Regions from separate parts of the Homo sapiens genome. Here region 2 is linked to region 1. Evidence: fine-mapped expression QTL. Tissue or cell type: whole blood. Region 1 holds a variant in brackets; the other region holds the start of a gene. All regions are shown on one strand. Distances are between the middles of the regions.

Region 1 (8,177 bases):
TCTCTCATAACAGCTCTGCCTTTTCCTGTGATGGCACTTACAAGTTGTCATAATATTTTTATACATGGTCACTTTTCTTTTATGCCATACTTTAAGCTCGTGAGAGCAGGGATTGTGCCTGTCTTATTCATTCCTATATATTCCATGCCTTGGCACAATGTCTGGAATAAAGACATTACATAGCTGTATTGGTGACAGTACTTGCCGTCGTCTTTTGTTTTGCTTTTTTGTTCTTCTAATTCTTGCTTGTAACCTTTGTATTGAGTGAATTGGGTTTGACAGGGTTGGATCAAAGCCACTTTAGTTTCATTGTCCCTCCCAACCTACTCTATGGGCTACATCTTTTCCTTCCTGAGGATATAATCTCAGGCAGGTCCCTATAGCTTGCAAGGACAGTTGTAGGCCATACAAAGTCACTTTCAATGGCAAGAACTGACTTATATTAGTAACTGAGGCATGACCAGTGAAATGATCAAAACTCCTGGGTCGGGGGCACAGGCTGTGGCAGTCTCCAGATGCAGCAGCTGCTGCACTCTTCATGGGTCCGCCCTGCCAGGCAGTAGGAGGAAAGGGCACCCTGTCTGGGGTCCTCTTTTCTCAGGTGCCCTGTTGCGGGCATTCCCAAGCTGTAGGCCTATATGAGCACATCCAGCCATTGGGGATTCATCACCCCCTCTCCTGTGTGGCAGATTTGTGTGAAACTCTGTCCTCAAAACTCATGCCTGCAGCAATGCCTGAAAGGTCCTGGCTCAGCTCCCAGTGAGGAGGAAGCAGTCCCTCCCCATCCCAGTGAGGGAAGTGCTGGGCATGTCCCAGTACCCCAGCGACCCTCCCCACACTTTTCCCATCCAGGTCTTCTACAGGCCAGAGTTGGTGTTTGTCAGTGCCAGGAAAACACTCACAGTCTCTTCCCATGTGCTCGGAGGAGTCCAGCATCTGCTGCCCACGGGGGACCAGACCAGACAAAGATCCACCCCAACCCCCAATCCTCTTGACCTTAGGTGCATGAGAAAAATGCGTGAAAGTGAGGCAGAGGGAACCCCTTGGTGACACCTGTTGCTCTTTTTCACTGAGGGCACCCATGGCTTTCTAGGAAACAGATTTGATGAACTTTTTTTAGGCTTTGTATTTTTTCTTCTTTGAAACTTTTGGCACTGCCAACCATTCATTCCCTGAAGTCCTCTTGCTTAGTTTCTGTGACTTCTATTTTTTTTTTTAATGATTTGAGACAGAGTCTCACTCTTGTTGCCCAGGCTGGAGTGCAGTGGTGTGATCCCAGCTCACTAAAACCTCCACCTCCCGGGTTCAAGCATTTCTCCTGCCTCAGCCTCCTAAGTAGCTGAGATTATAGGCGCCTGCCACCACACCCGGCTAATTTTTGTAGTTTTAGTGGAGACGGGGTTTTGCCATGTTGGCCAGGCTGGTCTCAAACTCCTCATCTCAGGTTATCCATGTTGGGATTACAGGCGTGAGCCACCATGTTCGACCTCTTTGTGCATCTTCTTTTTTTTTTTTTTTTTTTTTTGAGATGGAGTCTCGCTTTGTCACCTAGGCTGGAGTGCAGTGGCTCAATCTTGGCTCACTGCAAGTTCCACCACCCAGGATCAAGTGATTCTCCTGTCTCAGCCTCCTGAGTAGCTGGGATTACAGGCACCCACTACCATGCCTGGCTAATTTTTGCATTTTTAGTAGAGACAGGGTTTCACCATGTTGGCCAGGCTGGTCTTGAACTCCTGACCTCAGGTGATCCACCCACTTCGGCCTCCTAAAGTGCTGGGATTACAGGTGTGAGCCACCACGCCAGGACTTTGTACATCTTCTAAGCAGTCTTGTCCTTGTTTTGCCAGACTGTGTGGTAGGACACAGTGAAGAACAGAGGCTCCACCACAGACATGTGCAAAACCTGGCTTTGCCACTTACTAAGTCACTTGACCCCTCTGAGATTCAATTTCTATAAAACAGTGTTAATAGGATGATCCCCAACTATTCAAGGTATCCTTGTGGAGTTTATAAATGATGGGGGTAAAGCACATAAAATACCAACTGGGACTTATCCATCGATAAATATTAGCAATATATACTGAATTTCATGCAATCTAAGAATTCGTCAGTGTCTTAGTCTACTTTGTGAAGCTATAACAGAATACCACAGGCTGGATGATTTATAATAGACAGAAATGTATTGGCTTATGGTTCTGGAGGCTAGGAAGTCCAAAACTGAAGGTCCAGCATCTGGCAGGGGCATTCTTGCTGTATAACTCCATGGCATAAAGGCAAAGAGAGGGAGAGAGAGAGAGAGACAGAGAGAGGGAGAGAAAAATAGAGGTGTTTAACTTGTCTTTTTATTTATTTATTTATTTATTTGTTTATTTATTTATTTTGAGACAGGGTCTCACTTTGTCACCCAGGCTGGAGTGCAGTGGCACAACCATGGCTCACCGAAGCCTCAACTTCCTGGGCTCAAGTCATCCTCCTGCCTCAGCCTCCTGAGTAGCTGGGACCACAAGCATGTGCCACCATGCCCTACTAATGTTTTTAATCTGTTGTAGAGGTGGGGTTTCACCATATTGCCCAGGCTAGTCTTGAACTCTGGGGCTCAAGCAGTCCTCCCACCTTGGCCTCCCAAAGTGCTGGGATTACAGGCATGAGCCACCATGCCTGACCTAACTTGTCCTTTCATCAGAAACCCACTCCCATATTAACATTAATCTATTTATATGGGCAGAGTCTTCATGGCCTAATCACCTCTTAAAGATCCCACCTCTAAATACTATTACAAAGGAAATTAAATTCCAACATGAGTTTAGGAAGAGACAAACATTTAAACCCTAACAATCAGGTTAAAAAAAAAAGTCTTTATGCTGTAGGCCACTAAGAGAAATTTGCTACTGAAAGACCCATTTTTATTTCAGAAATGCTAAAGTATGAAGAGAGCACATTTAGAAAAAAGAAAATACAGTATCCTTGTAGCAATGGTCTGAATGTTTATATCACCATGCCCCCCAAATATATATGTTGAAATCCTACCCCCACGAGGTGATGATGGTGTTAGGAGTGGGACCTTTGAGAGGTGATTAGGTCATGAAGGCTCTGATCTCATGATTGGGATTAGTGTTTTTATAAAAGAGGTCCAGAGAGCTGCCTTGTCCTTTCTGCCATGTCCTTGCTGTCACAGCAAGAATGCACCATTTATAGCCAGGCGTAGTGATGTGCGCCTGTAGGTCCAGCTCCTCAGGAGGCTGAGGTGGGAGGATCGCTTGAACCTGGGAGGTGGAGGTTGCAGTAAGCCTTGATCATACCACTGCACCCCCGCCTGGGGGACAGAGTGAGATCCTGCCTCAAAATAAATAAGATTGTGGAAGATAAAGACTGGGCTGTGGGAGGTTATTGTGGGGACTCTGAGGTAGGAGAGGTCCTGTGCTATATATAATACTAGGATGTATGAAAGGCAAGCATCCTTTCCCCATTTCGTTCATTTCAAAAGCAAGGTGCTGAACCCTGCTGCATGCAGGGGAAGATGAAGAGACACTGTAATTAATGTGAACCATCCTCTCAGGAACAGACATTTGCAGAACTGAAGGGGAGTCAGAGCATTTCCGGATAGGAACTCATTAAAACTAAGCTTCTCTGAAATGAGAATCACTAAGTACAAAACATCCCATGCAACTGATAACTTCTGTTTTTTTAGGCAATTAAAAATATCAAGAAGAAATTAATTTCTAATACTTTTATTGATCCAATACTTTTAAGACCAAACTTTCATATAAATGAGCAAAGTTCTGGACCCACTTTTAACTTGTTCCCCCACTTTGGCCATTCCGTCAGAGCAAACCATAGCAGTGTGGGGGTCTCCTCTTTGGAACTGGAAATTGTGGTATGTAAGAACACAATTTTAGATGGAAGGGCAAATACTGCATAAGGATCAGCTGACATAAAGATCAGCTGAAGTAACCAACTGAAAAAAAAAATCACAGGGCAAAAGTGTTTCTTTTAGTAGAGAAGTGGGGACATTAGAAAAAAAAAGAAAAGGAACAAATAAGAGCAGCTGGGTTGATGAGTATAACGAATACAGCTGCTCTTACCTTTGGAGACTAAAGTGCTGACATGAATGGAGTGTGAGTGGAAAATTAGGCTGGTGATTGCAGTAGCCCCTACTGAGTATTTACTCCACAGCAATATATAATGGGGTATGATTGGCATTGCCTATTAAGAGATGCCGGACTGTAATCGGAATGTTGATACTCATCAAAATACAGTAAAACAAGGAGAGCAGTGATTACTTAAACCTGAAGTTACAAGATGGCATTGCTTT[T/C]TAAAGTTCTTTATTCTGGCCTGGCGCAGGGGCTCAAATCTGTAATCCCAGCACTTTGGGAGGCAGAGGCAGGAGGATCACTTGAGTCCAGAAGTTCGAGACTAGCTTGGGCAACATAGGGACATCTGCAAATTATTTATATCTCTACAGATAGTTAAAAAATCAGCCAGGTGTGGTGGTGTGCACCTGTGGTCACAGCTACTTGGAAGGCTGAGCCAAGAGGATCACCTATGCCCAGGAGGTTGAGACTGCAGTGAGCTGTGATCACACCACTGCACTCCAGCCTGGGAAACAGAGCGAGACCTGGTCTCAAAACAAACAAACAAACAAAAATTCCTTATTCTGTTTGATCCTTCATAAAAACAAATTAAAAAAAAACCCCGCCACCACAGGTCATGCAAAATTAAGTTGCTATATAATAGCAGAATAAGCCTGAGCTTACTGTATAAAGGCCAATATTTAGAGATGTTTTGTAAATTTCAATGAAAATCACTGCAGAGTATTATCTCTTCAGAAAGAGATTTCTTTTTGCTAACAATTATCTGTCCTTCTCCATCTCATTCCTTCGAACCAGTATTTCTGCACTGAGACAGAGTTGACTCACCATATCAACAAAGAAATGACTTCTAGGTTTCAACTAGGGCTTTCTGTTCCCAGAGAATGATTGATGATTCTGCAGTTATGGAATTTCTCTTTGAAGATGAAGCTGAACCCAGCCTCACATCTCTTTTGAATTTTTTAAAGCTTCCTACATGTATTAGGGTGTAGGTAAGCCACTGATATAGTTTCGGTATTTGTCCCCTCCAAATCTTATGTTGAAATGTGATCTCCAATGTTGAAGGTGGGGCCTACTGGGAGGTGTTTGAGTCATGGGGGTGGATCCCTTGTGAATGACTTTGTGCCCTCCCCAAAGTAATGAGTTTGTGTGAGATGTGGTTGTTATAGAGACTGGAACTTTCCTCCTCTTTCTCTTGTTCCCCTTCTAACCATGTGACACATCTACTTCCCCTTCACCTTCCACCAGGAGTAAAAGCTTCCTGAGGCCTTATGAGAAGCTGAGCAGATGATGATGCTATGTTTCTTGTACAGCCTGCAGAACCATTAGCCAATAAACCTGTTATCTTTAAAAATTACCTAGCCCCAGGGGTTCCTTTATAGCAATGCAAAACAAATGGATACAACCACCAATCATTGTAACATATTCCTGGTAGTCTTCAAGGCCTTAATTCTACAGAATTGAATTTACTTCTTAAAAACCATACTTAATTTTTCATTTACTTAGTATATACAGTATAGATATTTTCCCTTCAGACCTAAGTGACAAATAACCGGTGTCACATTGTTTGTATGTTGTCATTCCTTTGAAATGGAAAAGGACCACTATAGGTGATCCTGAGGTCACTAGTGACTTAGATGAGGTTGATTAAATTGCATTGATAATTAAATTATAGGCCAAGTGCTGTGACTCACACCTGTAATTCCAGCACTTTGGGAGGCTGAGGCAGGTGGATTGCTTGAGCGCAGGAGTTTGAGACCAGCCTGGGCAACGTGGTGAAACCCCCATCTTTATAAAAAATACAAAAATTAGCTGGGCGTAATGGTGTGCACCTGTAGTCCCAGCTACTCTGGAGGCCGATGTGAAAGGGTTGCTTGAACCCAGGAGGTGGTGGTTGCAGTGTGCTGAGATGGCGCCACTGCACTCCAGCCTGAGCGACAGAGCTAGGTAAATTATAATTGTTCTCATAAGTAACTTTACTGTGTTTTCTTTTTTTTGTTGTTGAGATGGAGTTTCGCTCTTGTTGCCCAGGCTGGAGTGCAATGGCACAATCTTGGCTCACCACAACCTCTACCTCCCGGATTCAAGCGATTCTCCTGCCTCAGTCTCCTGAGTAGCTGGGATTATAGGCATGCGCCACCAAGCCCGGCTAATTTTTTATTTTTGGTAGATACGGGGTTTCTCCATGTTGGTCAGGCTGGTCTCAAACTCCCAACCCCAGGTGATCCACCTGCCTCGGCCTCCCAAAGTGCTGGGATTACAGGCGTGAGCCACCGTGCCTGGCCGTATTTTCTTATATTTGATATAAGAAGAGAAAAGGATTAGTTCAGAAGGCAATCAGCAAGGACACAACAGAGTATGTACCTTAGTCTTCAGATTTCACTCTTTCACACATGACCCACACTTACATGTGGATGCCCCATGTACTGTCACATCCAGGCCTTCCAGCCCACTTGGAGAAATGTGAATTCTAGGACATTTTATGATATCAGTTCAAACTTCATGATAAACATTGTGTTGTAACGTTCTCATTTACCTAATGAAGTTTGATTCTTTACACTGGAAGGTTAGGCAACTCCAAGCAGCCAAAAATTCTCTAGAAGTTATATACATCAGCTAAATGGAAATATGGCCCCATAAACCATAGATATCTGACTTTAAAAAGTCATTCCTTAGAAACCATACCTACAACTCGCTTTTATAATTATTATATCACATAGGTATAAATGATTCAGCACAGACTTGGATGTTTGATTTATGAATGTTTGTGTTGGTGAAGCATGCCTGCACAGTCATCCAATGATTCAGTGTAACTTTGCTGGCTGTAATGTTGGCTTGAACATTTCTTGCAACTTTATTGGCCCATCTGCTCCAGAGTAGAGTCGTGGAACACTGTGCTTGCATTGCATGGCATGAATGCTGAACAGTGTTGTGAAACTTCAACATAAAACAGAAAAGTGGTAACAGCAGTGACAATTACTGCTGTGTTTGTCACAACCTTATGAGCTAGCAACTAACATTTAATAAACATCAGGCATAGGGCTATGCACAGTTCATGTTCATATCTTGTGGAGTAGGTGTTATTACCACAGAAAACTGTGGTACAGACATTTAATCACACAGAGCTGATCAGTGGAGGAGTCACGATTTGAACTCTGGTTAGCTAGTCTTACCACTGTGTAACTATTCATAATAACTGAAATCAATAAGGCTATTTATCACTTGAGTTGATTGAAGTTTGGATCTTCAAAATATGACTGTTTTCTTCAGTAAACTTAAATTAGGTCAAAGTTAAGTTACTAATAGTCACAAAAGAGAGTATAACATGGACCTAAGCTTCTTAAATTTTTTATTTGCTTGTTTTCAGGATACCCAAAATGTTTGATTTCAGCCTTGAACAACTACATTAATAATCTTTTGGCCGGGCGCGGTGGCTCACGCCTGTAATCCCAGCACTTTGGGAGGCCGAGGCGGGTGGATCATGAGGTCAGGAGATCGAGACCATCCTGGCTAACAAGGTGAAACCCCGTGTCTACTAAAAATACAAAAAATTAGCCGGGCGCGGTGGCGGGCGCCTGTAGTCCCAGCTACTCGGGAGGCTGAGGCAGGAGAATGGCGTGAACCCGGGAAGCAGAGCTTGCAGTGAGCCGAGATTGAGCCACTGCAGTCCGCAGTCCGGCCTGGGCGACAAAGCGAGACTCCGTCTCAAAAAAAAAAAAAAAAAAAAATAATAATAATAATAATAATCTTTTCACTAAAGATAATCTAGATTAATTGAATAAATCAGCTTGAATTAAAACTCATCAATGTGCAACATTTAGATACCTAGTACGATTTTTTTATAAAGCAAATCATGCTTAGATAAACACAGACCTGATTTGTCTTTGTAAATACTGGGTTCTCTGCTATTGGCACAATATGAAACTGAGGCGTGGAGGTGTGTTGCCTGCTGTAAATGGCTAATAGTTTTTAAAAGTGTTCAGTAACCAGATTAACAAAGCACTGTTATTATGAGTTTGTCCTTTTGCCTCTCATTTTATTCTAGGGGATTGGGCTGTGCAACCAGGGCTTTTCTAAAGCACCTAGAAG
Region 2 (8,190 bases), 51 kb after region 1:
CCTTTACAAACAACAAATGAGATTCTTCAAAGATAAATTTAGCATCAAATTCTAAAAGCAGCAAAAATTAGATTATCCTTTTAGCCAGGCTTCCAAATAAAATTAAAATTTGACCTCCAGCTGGTTTAGCATGTGAGTTTAAATAGAAGAAGAAGAGGAAAAATGTAAACTACACACTCCAAAAAGTTTCAAGTTTAAGCTAGCAGTCTTGCTCCTAGCCATTTCCAGGCCTCCTAAGCCTCACACCCTGCTAGCATTGCTGCAGTTAAACTCACACCACAATTAATTAGTAGTAAGATAAGTTAGTTTAGAATATAAATAGGCTACAGAAATATATAATGCACTCGAAAGTAAAAATACCTGAGTTTATGACAGTTTGAACATTTACAGAGCTGCTCTCCATTTACAAAAATGGAAAAATGAAAAAAGAGACTTATTCAGATGCATCTTAAATAGGTTACCAGAAACTGTAATGAATTACCTAATTCTATGCTGTATGCAATGTCATAAATACAACATTTCTTTAATTAAATGTCACCGGTTGGGGCTTGGTATCTTTCTTGTTATATAGAGATGTTAACTACTTTGCACTTGTTTTAGAGGAAGATGTGACCAGTCACTACATGGACTGGATCCTTGAAAAGTAAAGACAATTCTGAATATCAAATTCCACTTCCAGTGGGGCTCAGTGGCACGTGCCTGTAGTCCCAGCCACTCAGGTGGCGAGAGGGGAGGATCACTTGAGCCCAGGAGGTCAAGTTCCAGCCAAGGCAACATAGCAAGACCCTGTCTCAAAAAAAAGAGAGACCCTTTTGTAGTTCACAAGTGTGATGATTGGGGTTTCACGCTTATATGTGAGATGTGTCTCTCCCTCAAACTTTGTTCTGACCTGAGCACCTTACCTGTCATAAAAAGAAAGAAAAAAAGGAAAGAAAAAAAAAACCCAAACCTTGAAAACTGTTTCAAGATTGTTGAAATTGTAAACGTCCCCAAAATCTGTATGGCATAAAGAACTTGCAGATTTTGAATATCTTTCCTTTTGAATATATTTCCTTTTGAATATCTTTCCTTTATACACTCCTTAAAAGAAATACTTCTCTTGTGAACCCCTAATTCTTCACCCCTCCTCCACATACTCACTTTCAGAAAGCTTCCCAAGCATCCCTAACATTTTTTGACCATTCAATTTTTCCTAACTCAAATATGAAGCCATTCATTGTATACTATGATTTGAATTATGTGGACAGATATTTACTGTAATAAAACTATGATTCCAAAATTTACAAGCAATTTTTGATTAATGTGAAGTTCCCTGGAAATTAAACTCTTACATTACTGCCAAACAGACTACTTTGTTAGCCTTTTCAGTATGTATAATCTCTTTAGATGCTAACTAAAGAGATTCCAGGCCCTTCTCTCACATAAAAATGCTTTCTATTTCCCAATTTTGGTGAGTTTTTAAAGAATAATAATAGCTACCACTTATTGCACACCTTTTGGAAGTCAAGTATTGAACTAGGCATAATACAAATTGGTTAATTTGTCAGAGTAACCCAATAAGCCCCATTTTACAGATGAGGAAACTTCAGTTCTGAGCTGCCCTAGGTCACCCAGTTAGCAAGCTGCAGAGCCCTAACTTGAACATGAATCCCTTCAGCTCCAGAATCCATGCTTTTACAGTGTATCTCCATTGCTTCTTCATTTTGGCTAGTAATACAGTATTTCTTTCTTTCTGAATTTCTTTGTCAATGTCACCATAAATCCTCTGACATTTCCTCAATGTATCTGCACAACAGGCTTAACAGTTCTGCAAAAAAAAATCAATTTCTCTATTATTCTAGCACAAGTACTGTAATTCTATAATTATGTTAACTTTGAGATTCAGCAGCAATTGTTTTAAAAGTCGAATAGCAAAACTAACCTAGTCTACAAAGTCCTATATATAGATAACATGCTTTGAAATCCTAACACCTTAATATATGGTAAGAAAAAGGAAGAACTCGCACAAACTTCACTTTTGTGTATCACTTTAACACTCACTTTTGAATTGACTTAAAAACCTCTATTTAGTATTTTTGTCTATTTAGATTTTCAAATTTTATAAATTTATATAAAGGTGAAAATCCACTGTTTAAAAAAATCACTAACATGTGAGGCAAGGTATAGGTGGTGGACTTCCCTAGAAATATAGTAAGAGAATGTAAAATAGTTTATATAAAATCAAAGTTATACTATGTGTCAGAATTTCTGATTTATATTTCATTTCATTCAAAGCACTGCAAATATACCTTGCAGGTCACAGTACCCCTAAAATATGTTTTTAAAGTCAGGAATTCTTACCATGTGGAGATGGTTTATGACAAGTTACAGAAAATTGAATATACTACATATATTAAAGTACTACTTTAAGGTCAAAGCAGAAAGTACATGCAAGTATCAAATTCAGAAAGTGAATACAAATGTTTAACATTGGGTTTTTTTTGAGACAGGGTCTTCTTGCTCTGTCCTTCAGGCTGGAGTGCAGTGGTGAAACCTTGGCTCACCGCAGCCTCCACCTCCTGGGCTCAAGTAATTATCCCACCTCAGCCGCCCAGCTGAGACCACAGGTGCGTGCTATCTATCACTCCTGGCTAATTTTTAAAAAATCATTTGTAGAGACAGGGTCTCCCTATGTTGCCTAGGCTGGTCTCGAACTCCTGGGCTCCAGTGATTCTCCTGCCTTGGCCTCCCAAAGTGTTGGGATGTTTACAGGCATAAGCCAGAGCACCAGGCCTAGCACTGTATTTACCTTCACACCATATCATCTGATACTTGCAAAAAATGGCTGTGAGGAGAACAGTACAGGTGATATTATTTCCTGATAAAGAGCAGAAAAATTGAGGCTCAGACTTGGGTCACCCAGTAGGTAGGTGGCACAGCCCAGACTTAAAGCTTGAGAATGTTAGTTTCCTTCTACCTACCCTTTAACTATACCTGCTACCTCCTTAGCAGTGGTTTCAAACATGCATGACACAATCAGGAGTAAATAATATCTGTATCTAGATCCAGAAAAGCCCATTTGATGAGAGGCGAAAATAAGGTTAAAATATTATTTAATTTTAAAATTAAAAAAAAAAACAAATATGCTCCATTAAAAAGAAAATGTATTCACCTTTTGGTCACTGGTAATATCATTCCATTAGGTTTTCTCAAGGATTCTTAACGTCGCTCATCTTTTTTTAAGCACTCCTATGTCCCAGGCACTATCCTAGACTCTGGAAATACAGACTCGTAAAAATACTCCAAAATCTCTACTCTCACTTGTTACATGCAGGAGAGAGGAGACAAAACAAGGCAGGAGCAAAATAATTTGTATATTTACTGAGACATAAAGGCTCCAGAGAAAAATTAAAAAGGGAAAAAAGCAAAGGAATGAGCGTGTGTATTGGGGAGCGAGGGGAAAAACGTAGGATGTTACTCGTTCACCTTGCAAAGTTTATCATCCACATTCAACAGCTGTTAAATAAGTCATCAAAATACTAGATACGTGGGAAGAGAATTTACACACTCCTGACATTCCCATCCTCTCCTACTTCAAGAAACAAAATTACTCGATTCCTTGGCACCGCTGTTCAGAACCTCGATTTATCCATCAGACCTTGTTTCTTTAAAGCGTCAGGGCAAAAAGTTCGTTAACTGGTAATAATATCAGTTTAAAAGACAAAAATGAAAACAATCTGGCGCGCCTCCACTGCGCCGGTGCCCGGCGGCCACCGCCCTTCAAGTCGAAAGCAGATGCCTGACTCCGGTTTCTCGCTCACCCCAATCTCGGAGCTACCGGGGGCTCCCCTGTCACTCGGGGCCTGTGGTCTCCAGGCCGGCACTCCTCAGACCCGGGGGCCGGGCCTCGGCCTTCCCCGGCCCTCGCGGGGCTGACGCTCACCGCGGCCGAGGCTGGCAGTCCCCCCAAGTCCGCCCACCCGCCCCGAGCCAGCTCGGCAGCGCAGGGGCCGCCCCCGCCCGCAGGCCCCTCGCCGGCTGCCACGTAACCCTTCGCGGGAACCAGGAACTGCGCCGCGCAGCCTGCGGGAGGGGGCGGCGGCGGGTCAGGAAGGGGGCGACGCGGCGGTCCCCACCCCCTGCGGGCCGCGATGAGGCCCACCGGGACTTTGCATCTCCGGGCCGGCCGCCGGGGAGCTGCCGCCGACGTGGGGCAGGGCAGGGAAGGCCTGCACCTCAGGGACTGGGGGTCTGCACCCACCCCGGGCCCGAGCCCCCCGCGTCCTGGGCGGAGAAGCCGGGGCTGGCATCTGGAGCCCGGGCCCGGGCTGGAGGTGGCGGGGCAGGCGGTTGGGACTCGGGGCGGGCTCACCTCAAACATGAGCCCCAGCAGGAAGACCATCGCCACACAGGAGACGATGTCCGCGTGATTCTGCAGGACGAATTCGTGGCTCAGCACTGGGGGGCTCTTGGTGCTTTTCTTGCGAATCGCCATGGTGGGGCCGCCGCCCGCGCCTGCAGGTGCTCCGCCCCGGTTCTGCTCTTCCCAGCTGCTCACCGACTCGCCGCCGCCTCCCGCTGGCTGCTCCTCACGGCCCCGCTGCAGCCGCTCGCTGGGGCTTCACTTCCCATCCCACAGCCAGTACGCAGCCGCCGGGCCGCCCGGGGGAAAAAAAAAAACACAACAGCTAGCCCGCAGCGGGGGCGAGCATGCGCACCAGGGAGACGACGCTCCCTGGTGCCGCGGCCGCCTCCGCGAGCCCACAGCGCCACCTGGGGACCGGAGGCCGCTGGCCCGCGGCCGGGCGAGCGTGCAGGAATGTGAGCGGCGCTTCCCTGCTTCGCGCCGGGCCCGGGTTTGGGAGTCGTTTGAGGCGCGAGCTTCCTGCGCCTGCTCAGCAGCCTGAGGCCGCGGCCGGGTGCCCTCCTGCCCTCCTGGCCATCCAGGGATTGGGTGTCAGTGGCCTGTTGCACATTGTCACTTCTACAAGTGACTAACACCGTCAGGATAATCTAAAACTACGAATACTACCTGACTCCACAAGGGTACGGTGTATTCTCCAGTTTTAGCATCTGCCTTAAAAATTACCTCAGAGTTAAGCACTGCTGGGGACTTATTTCTACTCTTGGTAAGTTTGGACTAACTTAAAAAAAAAAAAAGAGCTGACCCTATTCTGGTCTGCCTCTCCGTCCCCACCCCCATCCCCGTCCCCATCCCCACCCCTATCCCCCACTGGCCTCAGACTGAAGACGAAGGGATCAGTTTGGGTTTACTGGCTTCACATATATTCAAATTAACAACATGTTTTAGTAATCTAAGGGAAATAGTAAAAGAGTTAAAAAGGATCGTGGATTAAGACACGTCCTCCTCTTATCGTTTTGCCCAAACCTGGAGTCCTTTGTATTCTTTTTCCTGAAGAATTGCTCTCCTGTTTACCCATAAGCCAAATGTAGAAACCAAAGTCATGCTAGATTGAGCCCTTTCAGCGCCCTTCCACATCCAGTCATCACCAATTCGAGGCAGACCTATCACCCCGCTTCCCCACTACCGCAGTCCGAGGGTACTTGCCTCTTGCCTACAATATTACAACTCTGGTGTAACCACTTAGTGGTTTAAGAATGTGGGTTGTTAAATCAGAATTCTGCCACTTATTACTTGTACGATCAAGGACAAGTTACTTAATCTCTATGGGACCCGATTTCCTCATTTTTAAAAATGTATTCATTTATGTACTTACTGAGGGTTGACTGTGTCCTGGGCACTGGGGATACAGAACTGAAATACAAATTAAATTATTCCTAGGGACTTATCATTCTAGTGTGGGAGAGAATCTTTAAACAAGATTTCAAAAGCGAAACAGATGTTAAATTGAGTTGAGCAACCAGGAGAAAAATAAAGCAAGGGGAATAGGAAAGTGCGAGGCACTTATACTTGCCTGAAGACCTGCAGGAGGTGAGGGAGCAAGCCCTGTGGATATCATCTATAAAGTGGGGATAACTATTGCTCATTTTAGTGATTAAATGAGATGATTGAAGGAAACTGCTTAGCGGGGAGTAAGGGCTTTATAAATTTAGTCAGGGATTATTCTTTTCCTCCTTCTGGGCAATCACTAGTTTCATTTCCCTTCAGATCACCTTTCAACGTTTATACTAGAATGATGCTTCTACTGGCAGAAAGTTTTTCAGCGGGTTCCCTTTCCCTTCATGGAAAGCTAGCATGATGAAATAGCCCTTTCTGATTTGGTCCTTGCCTACCCCAACAGACTGGAGCCCTGCATCTACAGGCCATAATCTCTGTACCAGCATTATTGACTACACACACTATACAGTTGCCTCTCCATATCTGTGGGTGCCGCATACACTGTGGATTCAACCAACCTGGAGTAAAAGATATTCAAGAAAAAAACTGCATTTGTACTGAACATCTACAGACTACCCCCCCATGATTATTCCCTAAATAATATAGTACAGCCAACTATTTATTTAGCAGTTATGTTGTGTTATTATAAGTAATCTAGAAATGATTGGAGGTCTGTGGGAGGATTTAGGATATTCTTTACCAGAATATTGCATCATCTTATATAAGGCACCTGAGCATGGGTGGATTTCGGTATCCGCGGGGGCCCTGGAACCAGTCCCCTGTGAAGACTGAGGGACGACTGTACATGCCATGACATGCTCTCTTCCCATGCTCTCCCCTGCCTTTGCGTGTACTGCTGTCTCTGTCTGGAATGTTTTCTCCTGTCCTTTCATAGACACAGCAGGCTCCTGCTGTTCCTTCATGTCTCATTTACACATGACCTCTTCGAAAGCTTCACTGAATTCTGTGACCTAAGCAATTTATCTTTTATGATTCAATTGCATTTTTGAAATAGTTTTATTGCAGTATAATTTATGTCATATAGTTCAGCTATTTGAGATATTCAATTCTGTGGTTTTTAGTATGTTTGCAAAGTTGTGCAACAATCACCATAATATAACTTTAGAACATTCTTGTAATCTCTAAAAGAAACCTTATACACATTACCAGTAACTCTCCATTTCCCCTCATAGTCTTGGCAGCCCTTGGCAACAACTGACCTATTTTCTACCTCTCTATATTTGCTTATTGTGGACATTTCTTTTTGTTCTTTCTTTGTTTCTTTTCTTTCTTTTTTTGAGATGGGGTCTTGCTCTGTTGCCTAGGCTGGTGTACAGTGGCATGATCATAGCTCACTGCAACCTTGGACTCCTGGCCTCAAGAAATTCTCCCACCTCCCAAAGTGCTGGGATTACAGGTGTGAACCACCATGGCCAGCTTGGACATTACATGTAAATAGAATCATGATCTTTTGTGACTGACTTCTTTCACTGAAGATAATGTTTCCAAGGTTCATCGATGTTGTAACATGTATCAGTACTTCACTCCTTTTTATGGCCAAATAATATTCCATTGTATGGCTATAGCACATCTTATTCATCAGTTGATGAACATTTGTGTACAAGTTTTTGTTTGAACTCAATTCCTTTGGGTATATACCTAGCAGTGGAATTGCTGATCATAAGGCAACTTTATGTTTGACGTTTTGAGGAACTCTCACACTAATTTCCAAAGTGAATGCACTATTTCCCATCCTATTAGCAATGTGTAGAGGTTCCAATTTCTTCCCATCCTTGCCAATACTTTTATTTTCTGTCTTTTAATCTTATCTGTCCTAGTGGGTGTGAAGTAATATCTCATTGTGATTTTGCTTTGCATTTCCCTGAGCACTAATGATATTGACTACTAGCCTTATCAGGTGCTCAGAAGCCATCTGTATATCTTTTTTTGTAGAAATGTCTATTCAAATCCTTTATCATTTCTAAGTTGGATTAATTTTTTAAAGTTTATTGAGTTGTAAGGGTTTAAAAATATCTATTCTATATGTCCATGTTGTTCTGTAATTTATTTTAAAAAATAAAAGATAGATTCTAGATCTTAGCAGATATATGATTTGAAAATATTTTCTTTCAGTCTGTCTTTTTACTTTCTTGATGGTTTTCTTTGAAGCACAAAAGTTTTTAATTCAGCAAAGTCCAACTTACCTGTTTTCTCTTTAATCACTTGCTATTGTTGTCCTATATAAGAAATCAGTGCCTAACCCAAGATTCCAAAGATTTACTCCTGTGTTTTCTTCTAAGAGTTTTATGGTTTTAGCTCTTACACTTGGGTCTATGAGGACTCACTTGTAT

What was found. PIP is the estimated chance that this variant, and not a neighbour inherited with it, causes the effect.
Region 2: it holds the start of TRAM1, and the variant in region 1 is fine-mapped to the expression of TRAM1 in whole blood (TOPMed, PIP above 0.99).

What each region holds. Positions count from the first base shown.
Region 1 is chr8:70,552,338-70,560,514 of GRCh38, forward strand. No RefSeq gene overlaps it. Among named protein-coding and RNA genes, the nearest start is that of TRAM1, 52 kb to the right of the region's middle. The variant T/C (reference allele first, on the strand shown) is at 4,313.
Region 2 is chr8:70,603,726-70,611,915 of GRCh38, forward strand. It overlaps TRAM1 (translocation associated membrane protein 1), which reads right to left and starts at 4,691. Exons shown (of 11, transcript NM_014294.6): 1 at 4,352-4,691. The coding sequence starts at 4,474. LACTB2-AS1 (LACTB2 antisense RNA 1) reads left to right here and starts at 4,852. Exons shown (of 4, transcript NR_038881.1): 1 at 4,852-5,108. It overlaps LOC124902090 (small nucleolar RNA U13), which reads left to right and starts at 807; the gene lies at 807-912. RefSeq lists silencers at 3,738-4,187, 4,208-4,387, 4,438-4,497, 4,558-4,607, 4,688-4,857.